Linked DNA regions of Homo sapiens: region 2 is linked to region 1. A link means that fine-mapping ties the variant in region 1 to the expression of a gene that starts in the linked region. Tissue or cell type: whole blood. Region 1 holds a variant in brackets; the other region holds the start of a gene. All regions are shown on one strand. Distances are between the middles of the regions.

Region 1 (7,667 bases):
AACATTCTAATTACCCCCATTTACAGATGAGAAAATTGAGATGGGGAAGAGGTAAAGTAATTCAATTACAGTCTGTGAGACAAAGTCGCAAATGTAAGAAGCGAAGTTTGCTCATTTCTGTTTGCCAGCATAATTTCACAAGCCCCTGACTCTGTACCGCTCTCCAAAAGATGCTTTGAAGACAAAACAGGATAGAACACATGGCCCCCCACATCTCTTGCCTGAGTCACTGTATTCCTTAAAATAAATGGCCCTAGTCCTTGCCTTTTCCTACACATAAAATAATGTCTGATGGGGTTAGTGGTTATGCTTCTACAATGTATAACCAAATGTTTTTTAGTAATCTATAACCAGACGTACTCTTACACCCCAACTGTGATGTGAATTTGCACATACTGCGGCTTCACCACCTGTATATAAACTGTGAACTGAAATACTGCTTTGGAGCAGTCTGACAGATGTGCTCCTGGCCTACAGGCCTCAGTAAGACTTTTGAATAAAACTAGCTTTAATTCTTTAAAAGCTTGACTTTTCTTTCTTTAGTCAGCAGGTCCCAAATTCTAGACCATGGGATTTGGGTGGGATTTGGCCACCCTGGGATTTGGCTGGATAGTCCATGCTCCTATGCTCCTACCCACTTCCCATATGGCCCTTTCTGGGTAAATGTTCTCTGTAAGTACTTGTGGAATGAATAAAACCCAAATGAATGAATGAGTGATGAAGAGGGCAATGGTGCTCATTGCAACAATGATGGGTAAAAAGACTGCAGTGAGCGGAAGTGCCTACCACACAGCTTCATATTCATAGCCCAGGACTGAAAGGTTCTGAGTTGGAACCAGCAGTTTTCAAGGGAAAGTGACTGACATTAAGTAAACATGATTCTTTACACAGCACACCAACTGCCAGATGCAAGAAGTCAAGACGACAAACGTGTTTCTCCCAGCTAATAACAGTGGCCTCCTCATCTGGGCTGTTTACTCAGCCACTAAAAACCGGATACTCTCTTTGGCTAAAACCAGGATGTTGTGTACCTGTCCTATTAGGCCCTGACGGCAGGCCTGGCCTGCAAGTTGGGCCTCAAGGACAGGAGTCAAGTCTTGAAGAGCTCTTTCCCAAATACCTGGGGTTGGAGGTGGGGATGGTGGAGTGGCTGAGCTGTCAGCAGAGGAACTGCGGGGGAGGGTGTAAAGGAATGCTGGGTGCTGATCTGACAAAGGACCTGACGATGCCTTTGACAGAGTTGGAATCTTAGAACATTTTCAGGGGAAAGAACACATTGCAGTGACTTTGGGCTTGCTGAGTTTGAGACATTGAGAAAGGGGTTAAAAAGAGAAAATGAGGCAAGGCTGAGAGAGGCAGGGTGTCCTGGGTTGCCGCCATGACAATGAGGAGGACTTGGCAGTGCTCCCAGAAAGAAATAGGAGTGATGGAGACACATTTGCCCCCTGGATGGAAGGAACACAGGATGAGAAGACATCACTTGGAGAAGAAATAGCAACAACCATTGTCACACCAGGCTCACCCCTACCCCCTTCCCTGGCAATCAAAAAAGCTGATGGCTCCAGCAGCTCCAGCACGCCCTGGGGACAGCCAGTGTGCTTCAGTCTGAGGCTCCTTCCTTCCCTCCCACTCGCTCCTGCCTGTCTTTCCCATGTTTGCCAGTGTCAGATCTGCATAGTGATCTTCCTTTCCTAATCCTGCTTCCTCCTCATCTTTCGCAGGTGTTTACCACAATAAATCTCCTGGAACAACTCTGTTCTACCATCTGCTTCTTGCAGGACCCAAACTGACATGCTTCCCAACAACAAGAAAAGTGACATTCCTTTTTAAAGACCCAGAGAAAATCCTAGTATCATGTTCTTTGGTATGTTCTGGAATCAAGGACCCAAGATTAATTGGTAACTGATTCACTTATTCAGGAATTCATTTAATCAATCACTTCAATAGGTATTAATTAAGCACCCATTGTATGCCAGGAACTGTGCTGGACCTTAGAGCTATAACAGTAAACAAGGAAGACGTAAGTGAAAATCTCATCTAAGCAACTTGTAAAATGAAAGACCATGGGTAGTCCAGGAAGGAAAAGCTGTCTCTGGGTGTGGCTGAACGTTAAAGCAATCTATCCTATCTGATGAGAAAACACACAAAATGATCATTCCAGACCACAAAGATCTCCAATTACAAGAAACATAACTTCCGCCACTGCTATGCCCTTTGCACACTGTACATAGTCAGTTCCTCCCACCAGGAGTCATCGGAGAAAGGAAACTGCACGTGGATGGCAGGACAACAGCACAGCATTGCTGGCTGTCATGGTAGCTGGCACATGCCAGCTCCTTTTTCTGCATTCAGCTCCCTCCTGCCCCATCACCTAAGAGCCAGGCAAAAACACTTCCACTCGGCTGGAGCCACCAGGACTTTGACCTACATAAAGTGCCACAAAAATCACCCAATTGAACAAGCTCTGGGCCAGAGAAGGAGCTGAGGTCCAGCTGAAGGTGATGTCCAGCCCAAGAGGCTGTCCCCATAAACTGACCCTCAGGGGGTGCTGAGTCCCACTGCCCTGGTTTCTCCACATCTGTGTGATATAAGGAAGCCAGAGACCACCACAGCCTGATGAGTTCTTGGAGAAGCCCAGAGCCAGTGGGCCTGTCTCTCCACAGAGTCACGCTCAGGGCTTTAGTTAAAGGATCCCTGCAGAGGGAGTGGGTTTGAATTCCAAATCTGCCATCCTCATCCTAGGACAAAGAGCAAGACCTTTAACGTCTCTAGGCCTCAGTTTCCTCTGCTGCAAAGGAGTGAGGGTACCTGTACCTCCCTCATTGGGCTATTGTGAGGACTAAATGAGATAACATATGGAAAGCACACAGCACTGTGCAAGGCAGCTTGAGAGGGCGTGAGCAGGATTGGTGAGGACTATTCTTGTTTGCCTGGCTCTAGCCGTTACCCTGACTTCAATCACCTCTAACTATGCGTCCTTCTATTTTGCCTGTTTCCCTGTTTTAAAAAAAAAAAGTAAAAAGAAAATATAAATTCCTTTCTGCTTTCAGAAATGAATTTTCTGAAATTATACCCATCATGGGGATTCCAGGGACCATGGACTCTTTGCAGACACACTACTCAAACCCATGGAGAAAATGTCCCATCGGCTGCCCGGGAGCCTCTGCCTTGGCCACTCGCAGCAACCCTGGGAGAAATAAGGGCCTCAGACAGAACAATAGCATGGATTGTGCCTCTTGCAGGAATTTCATCTGTCACTGAGTAACAGGTTTTGATCTCAGGCTCGCTGCCAGTTAGGAAGTGAAACCCTTTCCGGAACACTTGCTGTTTTGTTGGTTTTCCCCTGGAGATTTAATGATTTCACCTTGGAGGTTTTAGCTGATGAGCTGTGCTCTGTATGGAGCCTACCCATGTGAAAAACCAATCAGGTATTTCATGGGCTCCCCAGTATTCTATTTCGTGAGTTTGGAGACCCACTAAGCCAACAATTGGACACCCCCACAAGGTGTGCATTTGCTGTCACCAGAGCGAGCTCTGGGTCTGTCCGCGTGGCACAAGGAGAGCTGTTAGATCAGTCGTCTTCTCTAACCCAGAGGCCTAAGTGAGAGGATGAGAAAGAGAAAGGGCCATTGTTTCTAAAGACAGGTTCACCTGAAGAATTTGGACAATGATGCCGGTTTCAGTTTAAAGGGCCTTTGGGCAGGGTTGGCATTGGGAACAGGGGCTGAGGGAGCTTCTAGACTTTTCTGCATTATGAGCAGAGTAATTACAAATCAGCTCTGCAGATGACAGCACAGACCTCTTTGTGGTGGGTTCTCTTGGGCCAACAGCAGATTTGGAGCCGTGGAAGAACAGCGAGAAATCTCTTCACATGACCTTCATGTCTTCCTCCTGTAAACCGCATTGTATTTCTAACTTCAGATCAAGGGGACTGACATCTGCAACTCTTCAGGGAGGACAGCTGGGCCATGCCCCTTTGGGCCTCCCATCCTCCCCTCGTCTTGTCAGCCAGTCGTGCTGGGATCTGCCGGCAGCCTTGTGAGAACCGGGCAGGAACTGGCCAGCAAAGGCAGCTATAAATACTCCTCTTGGCAGCCAGCTTCACTTGGGAGCCCACAGCTGAGGGGC[G/A]GAGGCCAGCGGGAAGCACCTGCACCTCTTCAGGGTACATCCGAGCCTGGGCCTGGCTTCCCGCCCTCCACCTCTGAATGGGGATTTGGTCGACCTTTTCCGGCTTGGGGGAAGTCCCCGTGGTGATCCAGCTTCCCAGATGCAAGAGCAGCAGGGAGGGCACTGCTCTCCAAGCAGCCCAACCCCTTTAAACTCAAAGTCAGAGCTATATTCTCACAAGGGCTGATGAAACTGAATAGCTAAGGGTAAATGAGGAGGCAGGAGAGGCGAAGAGGAAGGGAAATAAGCTCTTTTATAGAATGCTTTTCTCCTCCTGATTTCACTTGTGTGGGGAAGCATGAAACAACCACTAATCAGTCTTTCCCCCTGATGAGTCGGAAACTTGACAACTGGAGAGTTTTTAAAAAAATGAATGAATAAATATTTCTTCTTTGGGCTTTATTTATGAAGCATGGGCTAAGAGATCCCTTGTGGGCATTTTAAATAACCAGAAGCAAGTCACAGCAGCAGCTAATGGTCAACTGTAAATGCAGTTCTGCTGTGCAGTTGTCGTTCAAAATGTGACAGTATTTAAAAGCTGGGCTGTATATGAGATGAAGGAGTTCAAAGACCCATTGGATGACAGTTCTCATGCTTCTGCAAGTGAAAGAATCATCTGGAACACTTGTTTATGAGGCAGATCCCCGGTCCCTACCCTCTGAGATCTGATCCTATAGATTTGGGCCAGGGCCAAGAACCTGCATTTGAGTCCCTAATTCCAACCTGGATACTCTGGGACAGGACTGCGCTTTGCAAGACAATGCCCTATGCCAGTGGTTCACAAAGTGAGGTCCCCAACCTGGAGCCACAGGAAATTTGTTAGAAATACAGATTCTTAGGCCAACCCCAGAAAGACAGAATCGGGAACTTTGGGGACAGGGCCCAAAAATCTGTTTTAACAAACCTCCAGGTGGTTCTGAAGCCTGCTATAGGTTGATAAACACTGCCCTAAGATTTCTTACAAGCAAGTTGTGCAAACCCTGGAATACTGGCAATTCCAATGCGTAGCCAAGATTTAGAACCACTCTGATGGACACTTCCATTGGAATATGAATGCTAATCTCACTTCTATAACCCTTATTTTTCTGAGCACTCACTTTTTTCAGCCAAGATTAGAGTTAATAAGGTGAAGGGGAAAGAATGTGGGTTTTGTTTCAGGTAAACGACTCAAGCCTGGTCCCAAGTTGAACCCTCCCTGAACCTCAGTATTTTCATCTGTGAAATGGAAGGAATGCTGCCCACCCCACAATGGTGCTGTGAAGAGTAATGAGACAGTATCTGGGAAAACACTTAGCCAGTGGCTGGCACATTGTAGAAACTTGATTTTTCTGTCTCTCTCTACAATATTTTTTAGTTTAATTGGGGTCTGGAATGAGATTCTTAATTTTTATAGGAATATAGCTTAAGGGTTTGCTCTCCAGAGAGCATCAAAAGACTCATTTTAAAATTCATCTCTTGTTTTAGGGTAAATGTCTGAAGAGCTCAGTGAGCACTCTTGATGTTAAAGATGACTGGTAGCCTTAGTATAGAAGCAGCTCTAATTTAGCATGGCCTGGTTCCACTTTGTAACCAGAGTCACTTTCTCTTCTGGGACATCACTGATGTCTCAGTAATGGGCAAAAACCTTATTATATTAGGCACTTTGCACAAGCATTTCACTTCCTTAATTGGTCACCATTGCTTATTAAATGCCAGGCCAACTTCCAATACAGTTTGGTGACAGAGGCCTGTCATCAACTGTTATAAAGAAATGACTTCTTGTGTGTGTACTGGTCAGCTTGTAATTCAGTTGGTTGGAAGATCAGTCAATATTGTATATTTATAAAAGAGTAGATTCAGTAACCACTTTGGCATGAAGCATGCTGCCTGTGTTTTATATTTTATATAATACATAGTAGTTCTATTGACTCTAAATAAATACTTGACAATGACTGTTTTAATAGATTCCAAAGATGGAATGTCCACAAACACATCATTTGTAGGGCAAAGCTGACACAAATCACATTTGTGGGAGTAAAGTGGGAACTCATCCCTGTGCAATGGTCAAATGCTCCACATATTTTTGTTAGGATGGAAGGGTGTTTAGTAAGGTCCTTCATGTAATCAAGACCTGTCCTGGTGTGCAGCCATAGAAGCCAATTTGTTTTACTTCTGGTACACTGACCAGCATCCCTTAGGACAGGAAGAGATGGATATACCCAAATTGCATTGCCACCTAGTACTTCGGCAAACACTTACTGAGGACCTGCCAGGTGCAAAGCACATTTACATGCATGACCTCATCTAAGGCTCACAAACAGTTATCACCATCTCCTTTTTACAGATGAGCAATTGAGATGCAAAGACATGAAGGCATTGGATAAACGTCATGCAACCCATATTGGTTTCATTTACCCTAGAAGGGATTTCTTGCTTTCAGTTGTATTTACCCTAGAAGGGATTTCTTGCTTTCAGTTGCTGGTTTGCTTATTCATTCATCTAGTCATTATTCATCTATGGTTTATCATAGCGAGGCAACATTGTTTACTCTCATATCTCCTAAAACAATTTTAGAAACCTACATATCCTCTTGAACCTTTTTCAGATGAGACTTCAAGTTTCCCTTCCCGTGTTAAAATAGTTGCAAAGATGTAATTATGGCACGTAGTCAATATTGACACTTTACAACAAAATGTTAATGAATGCATTTCTATATGGCCAAAGGAATATAGATACCAATTATATTTTTCCATTATCCAAAGGAATATAGATAGAAATGATATATTTATCATCTAAAATTTTAAAATACATGAATGATCTTTTAATAGAACTTTTTTCCTTGAACTCATATTTCCATTTCATTTCCCCAATATTACCTCATTTTTAAGGGACCTCACGCTTAAAAATATGTTATCATTCTATTATAATTCTGTGTAGTAATAATATTAGTCAAATTAATTTTTTTAATTTGCTATAATCTTAAGACTTTAGATGTTAAAATTTTTCTTCTGGATTGGCTTATCATTAAAATTATGAAGAAATTATTCAGAACAACATAAATATGACAACTTTAGACAATGCAGCATAAAATCAGGAGAGGTATACTTTTTTTTTGAACACAGAAAGCAAGATGGGAAAAAAGAATGTTTCTCATGATATCTCCCTGCAGGCATGTTCTGAGGCCAATCTTATTAGGAAAGAGTACATGTGGAAGTCTGGGATATGGAAATTAATTCTCTGAGATACACCCAATCTAGCATATCCCAGCTGGAAGGCTGCTTCCCTGGGAGCCAAAAGCACAGAAGGTCCTTGAGGGGCCATGGGACACACGAACAAGCAAGCAAGAGCAAGTTAGACATGCCAAGCATTGTATCTGGTAGGGACTAGGTAAGGTAAGAGACAAGTACCATTTGTAATTTTTTTAATTTTTTAAGTTTTTAATTTAGGGGTATATAGTAGGTGTATGTATTTATGGAGTACATGAGATGTTTTGATATAGGTATGCAACATGTGATAATCAC
Region 2 (6,083 bases), 89 kb before region 1:
TGCATTACTTTGCTACTGATTTTTAAGAGGTAGTTAGGGCCCTCCCACAATGTACAACTTAGTCTTTCCCTCATTTGTCTTAAAGAAGTGCAAAGAGTCTTAACCAGTATGCATGCTGAATTCAACACAACTAGAAGTGACTGAACTGAGGAACCAAGGAACTCAGGCATATTAACCAAATGGCAGTTTGATTTTTTCCTAGTAACAGATAGCCTACAACGTAGTGAGACCCCCAGTCTCTAAAAGAAATAGGAAAAAAAAAATTAGCCAAGCATGGTGGTGTGTGCCTGTATCCCAGTTCCTCAGGAGGCTGAGGTGGGAGGACCGCTTGAGCCAGAAGGTCGAGGCTATAGTGAGCTATGATCACACCACTGCACTCCAGCCTAGGTGGCAGAGCAAAACCCTGTCTCAGAAAAAAAACAAAACAAAACAACAACAACAAAAAAAGCCTATAATGCACCTGGGTTGAGCAACACAACCCACAAAGAACTTTGTTAATGTCAGTTGATGTCAGATTGTCCAGGTTTGTGGGAGCCCAGGGCAGCATGGATAAGGACCACACATATTCCTAAATCAGATCTTGGTCAATATAGGAGATGAAAACTCAACTAACTCATGTAATGCACAAAGCTGTGTCTTTACTAGTGGTAATGGATTTCTGTTAACTTATCCCTGAAGTCACGCAGCTCCAGTCTGGAGGTATGGCCCATGAGACACAAAGCTGAAGGTCTACAAAAAGATCCAAGCCATGATTTGTTTGCATTAGCATCACTGCCCAATCCAAGGTGGTTAACCAGACAATCCCAGATGCTAACAAGTCACCAACCAACCAGTCTGATACATATTCTACTTGTATCTCTCTTTCTTTCAAACCCCCTGTGTTTTGGACTGTTAAGTGTATGCCCCCTACAAAATTCTTATGTTGAAGCCCTAACCCCAAACATGACATTATTTGGAGATGAGGCCTTTGATAATTATTTAGGGTTAGACTAGGTCATGATGGTGGGGCCCTCATGATGGGATTAGTGGCCTTATGAGAAGAGGGAGCCCTCTCTTCCTCTGCGTTTACCAAGGGAAGGCCATGAGAGGATATACGAGAAAGTGGTCATCTGCAGGCCAGGAAGAGAGCCCTCACCAGAAACCTAATCAGCCTACACATTGATCTCAGGCTTCCCAGCATCCTGAGCTGTGAGAAAATAAATTCCTGTTGTTTAAACCACCCAGTCTACGGTATTTTGTTATGACAGCCTGAGCTGCCTAAGACAAGTTCATATTTCACTTGTTTTTCTCCTTCTTTCAACCCCCTTCCTACTCCTTTGATGGGGAAGATTCCAAAATCACAAAGGTAGTTCCAAGGCAGAAGAAAGGGGAAATAAACAGTCAAATAAATAGTCAAAAAGTATGGGTTTCCAACACTGGAAAAACTGACAATCAAACTTCCTTCAATAAAAACTGGCTATGCAGTTACGAAATGTGTTTGGAAAGTCCCAAAAAGAAATAATACAGTATTAGAATCAAAGAGGGTTAATAAAGCATACATTATCTGAGGTAACCACATTCAGAGTAATTAAAAAATAAAACTAAATAGGTATATTGACAAGGTATACGACACCCTCCCAGGCAGCAAGAAACATGAGTATGAACGCAAATAAATACTATAGATCTATTTATACAGAAACCCTCAGCAATTCTTGTCGCAGACTGCCTGGCAGCCCTCATGTCTTCAGTATTCTGTGCCATGAAAAAGTAACCGTCAAGGATAATAGAAACATAATTTGACCTACTTTTCCCTGGATTCCTGCAAAGTCTATAACTCCAGTTCTTGTTTATTCCGACACCACATCTTGGGGACACATTTCCTCACTTACTTTGCAGGCAATCCTAAATGCCACACATGTTAAGGTCACTTGTGGGCAATTCCTAAACTCTCTGGGTCACCGACTTTAAGAATGTCCCATCACACACAGAGAATCCTCAGAACATCTTCTGAGATGGACCTGGGATGGACCATTTTCCACCTGAGATGGAAAATGCCTAGGAAAAGAGAGATGCAGCCTCGAGAAGCTGAAGACCGACATCAGTTCAGACCCTTCCCTACCCAAAGGAGGGCGCATGAAAACAAGTGGTTATCCCTCACTCTCAAGTTTACACAAACCCATCTCTGAAAGAGCTAGAAGTCTCCCAGCAAGGTCTTGTTTTAAGTCAGACAAGACTGCATTTTAAAAATTACAGCCAAACGGGAAAGAAAAACCACATTGATGCAGCTTCTCATTAAAGACCACTTAATAATAAATTTTTAAAAGATGAGTAGAACCCACCAAAGGTGCCGCCAAACCCTGGTGAGCAGGGAAATCTGAGTAAGTCAGCTCTGTGTCCTGAGGCCCTGGCGGGGCCTCCTAGGTGGCTTCTTAAAGATCCCAGGAGACAATCAGCAGACCTTCCTGCTTCTCTTAAAAATACAAAACATGCCTGACCTGCTCAGGTCATTAGATGCACTTAGAACTCAATGAGGGACACTCCTTCACCAGGAAATCGTATCTGAACACACCATCAGGAAGTCAATATTGAAGGTTCTTGGGGGCGTGCACCCTCCTGCTCAAGAGGGTGTCCAGGAGTATTAAGTGCTGGAGACACCGGAACCCAGGAACTGGAAGCTCACCCAAGAGCTTCCGACTCCTGGGTCTGCCCCTCGGCGGTGGAGACCACCAAAACCAGTCTCGATGCCCAGAGCTTGCAACAGCACCTCCAAAACAAGCACACACGTCGCATGCGTCCTGCAAACAGGGATGCCGCTCGTGGGGCCTGAAGCTTGCGGTTGGGACAGGGCTGGCTGGCTGTTGGACGCTGGACACCTGCAGCTTCCCCTCCGAGAAGAGGCAAACAGCTCGTCTTCAGCCGATGCCCGGTCCCGCAGCCTGAATCTGGGGGCCCTGGGGTTAAGTCAGGTGCAGCCTGGTGGGGGGGAGGTGTGGGGGCGGGGGAAGCCGTCGCTCAGGGGGTGGCACCTCAAAACCCGCCGTCCCGGGCCCCTCTTCAGCCGAGTCCGGCAGAAGGGCGTCCCTTCCGCCACCTCCCCAACTTCCAGACGCCCCCCTCAGCGGCCCGGGGGGTGGGCGCGGGCTCCACGTGCGCGCCGCCCGTGCCCACTCGGACAGGGCCGGGCCACTCACCCGGCCCCCAGCGGCGCTCCGCTTCCTCCGCAGCGTGAGCCCGCTCCGCAGCAGCGCGGGCAGGTCCCTCAGCCGCGGCCGCAGCGACGCCGGCGGCTGCTCGCGCTCGGGCTCCCGGGCGCTGGGGCTGCGGCGCAGGGGGCCGTCTGCCGCCACCACCGCCGCCGCGGCGGCCAGGGCCGGGCTCTCGCACGGCGGCTGCATCTTGACGGAGCCCACGGCCATCCTCATGCCCTGACGGCGCTGCGGCGCCGGGGGCTCCTCTCCACCGCGCTCGCCTCCGCGCGCCGTCCGCGCCTTCGCCAGGAAGCGAGAGGGCGCGACTGCGGCTCGGGCGCGGGGCGCGCTGCCAGCCGCTGCCCATTGGCGCGCGCCGCGGCCCCCGCGAGGCTCAGCCCCGCGCGCCTCCCCTCCCCTCCTCTCTCCTCCCCTCCCCGCCCAGGTGCGCGGGCCCCGCCCCGCCCCGCCCTTTCGCCTGCGAAAGCTGCCTGGGACCTGTCCCCCTCGGATCTCCCACTCGGGACCCGGGAGGAAGAGGGCACCTTGGGCACCGGCTCATCCACAGGTGCAGAATTCCCAGAATCTCCGGCAAACCCGCTCTTCTGTCCTGTCCCTGTCCCCCTACCCCTTAGGCTGAAAAGTCCTGCTTCACTTCTTCGAATAGCCAGGGGTTGACTTGGACTTCAACCAAGTGTGCTGGAGAGTCGTCCGCCCTCCCGCGCGTTTTGCACAGCCTGGCCCCTCATCGTAATCTTTACTCCTGGGAACTGTTTTGGCCAAGGAACTTCAAAATAGACACGCTACAAGGCAAACACCATGAGGCAAAATTGCTTTGCGCCGACCCTTCTTGGCACACGCATCCTTAAAGGACGAAGGGAGAAAACTTTTGTTGGTTATGATAGGTGTTGAGCAGAGTAGCTGCAAGTCTGGTGACCTGAAGGTGAATCTCTGTTAGCATGTCAGAACCTGACCTTCCCTGAAAGCCCGCTGCTGTGATGAATGTGCTTGGTGAACTGTAAAGGCCTGCCGTGGTGTGAATCATTGTTTACACCCTTCCAGGAGGCAGGAATTCTGGATCATTGAGAGTGAAACTATTCCAGCAGTGCCTTAAACGCCAGGGAGTGTGAATGTTCACATCTCAGCTCAATCTGTCTTCAACAAGGGCCAGCCAGGGTGTTGACTTCTCATCAGTGGGGCGCTGGGATCCCCATCTTTGTCTAAGACTTACAAAAGTTGAATAAGCTTATTCACATTTTTAAAAAATGACAAGAATCGTAGGAGGTCAGGGTCCAGAGTTGGTTTACCATTGTGCCCTCAGCCACTCACATGGTAGGTGCTTGGCAAATATGTATAAAAACATGCCATGTAACAAAAAAGGAGGAACGAACTGTGACCTCTGCCCTTAAGGAAGGTAAGACTTAACCTAGGAGTAGACAAACATCCAGAAAAACAAAGATATTGCACTTGTACTCTTGCTAATTGCCAAGTAAGTGTAGGTAAGACCACTTCAGGCCACAGGAGAGAGAAATGCTTCTGGCCTGGGATGGGCAAAGCTAAATCCACGAAAGGAAGGAAGTTTAAACTGCACCTTAAGGGTGAGTGGGGAAGATTCAACCAGGCAGAAGGAGGGTAGGTGTCCTTCAAGTAAGGAAGAAAGACATGAGGCCGGGCGCGGTGGCTCACGCCTGTAATCCCAGCACGTTGGGAGGCTGAGGCGGGCGGATCACGAGGTCAGGAAATCGAGACCATCCTGGCTAACAAGGTGAAACCCCGTCTCTACTAAAAATACAAAAATTAGCCGGTCGTGGTGGTGGGCGCCTGTAGTTCCAGCTACTCGGGAGGCTGAGGCAGGAGAATGGCGTGAACCCGGCAGGCGGAGCTTGCAGTGAGCCAAGATTGCGCCACTGCGCGACAGAGTGAGACTCCGTCTCAAAAAAGAAAAAAAAAAAGAGAGAAAGACATGAGAAAAACACAAAGGTGGTATCACACAGAACTCACTGGGCACTGAAAATATGTCATGCTAGTGAAGGGAAAGATGACATAATGAAGAAGTAAGAGAAGATACCAGAATGGATGCTAGTAACACACTGCAGAAGGCCTTAAACCCTGTCACCTTAAGCTGTGTGTGTTAACTGGAAAGGACTTTATAATAGGACTCCATAGTCCATTACAGTTTCCAAATACCTATCACATGCATTTATCCAAGGCTGAAATTGCATTTGTATGTTACCATGTCAGACTCTATCCGTTTTTACAGTGTTAAGATATTGCAGCTCCAGTTGGTAATTGGTCGTTGTCTTGAGCCCCAGAGTGCCACTCACCCCCATACCTCCAACTTCCCCATGACATACAACTAAAGGGTGAACACCTGGCCCACTAGAAGCCCTCCAGGACACTCAGATTAGTGGGTGCTTGCGCCCCATCACCCCAATGACAACATTGAATCATACCATGAACTTACTCTACTCCAAAGTAGAACACGTGTTCCGTCTCCTGGTCCAGGTTCCTGGTCTTCAAACCCATTCACACAGTTGCTCAATGCAAGGCCAGCATTCCTTAGATTCTATGGGATAGACCAAGCGTCTAAAGTTCAAGAAGGGCCTTTGGAAAATTGGTTTAGGTTAAGGTGATAAATGACAAATGCCATTTAGCTTCAGGATAAAAATAGGCAAACAACAGGGAATAGTAGGATGTGTACACAGAAGAGCCACGTCACTGTTTAACTCAAATCAAGCAACCTTTATACTCGCTGTGCCCTGTCTGGAATGAGAGTCCTCTGCAATGCTGTCCAACAGAACTTTCTACAATGATGCACATTTTCTGTTATCTGTTTTGCAGCTACTAGCCACATGTGACTGCTGAGCACTTGAAACATGGCTAGGGTGACTGAGGAACTGAATTTTTAACTTTGTT

What was found. PIP is the estimated chance that this variant, and not a neighbour inherited with it, causes the effect.
Region 2: RAPGEF5 starts here. The variant in region 1 is fine-mapped to the expression of RAPGEF5 in whole blood (TOPMed, PIP 0.94).

The regions. Positions count from the first base shown.
Region 1 is chr7:22,441,421-22,449,087 of GRCh38, forward strand. The region is part of intron 4 of STEAP1B (STEAP family member 1B); the gene reads right to left. Among named protein-coding and RNA genes, the nearest start is that of STEAP1B, 55 kb to the right of the region's middle. RefSeq lists enhancers at 6,596-6,645, 6,656-6,725. The variant G/A (reference allele first, on the strand shown) is at 4,129.
Region 2 is chr7:22,353,660-22,359,742 of GRCh38, forward strand. It overlaps RAPGEF5 (Rap guanine nucleotide exchange factor 5), which reads right to left and starts at 3,495. Exons shown (of 26, transcript NM_012294.5): 1 at 3,171-3,495. The coding sequence starts at 3,401. RefSeq lists an enhancer at 2,771-2,840 and silencers at 2,961-3,190, 3,251-3,640.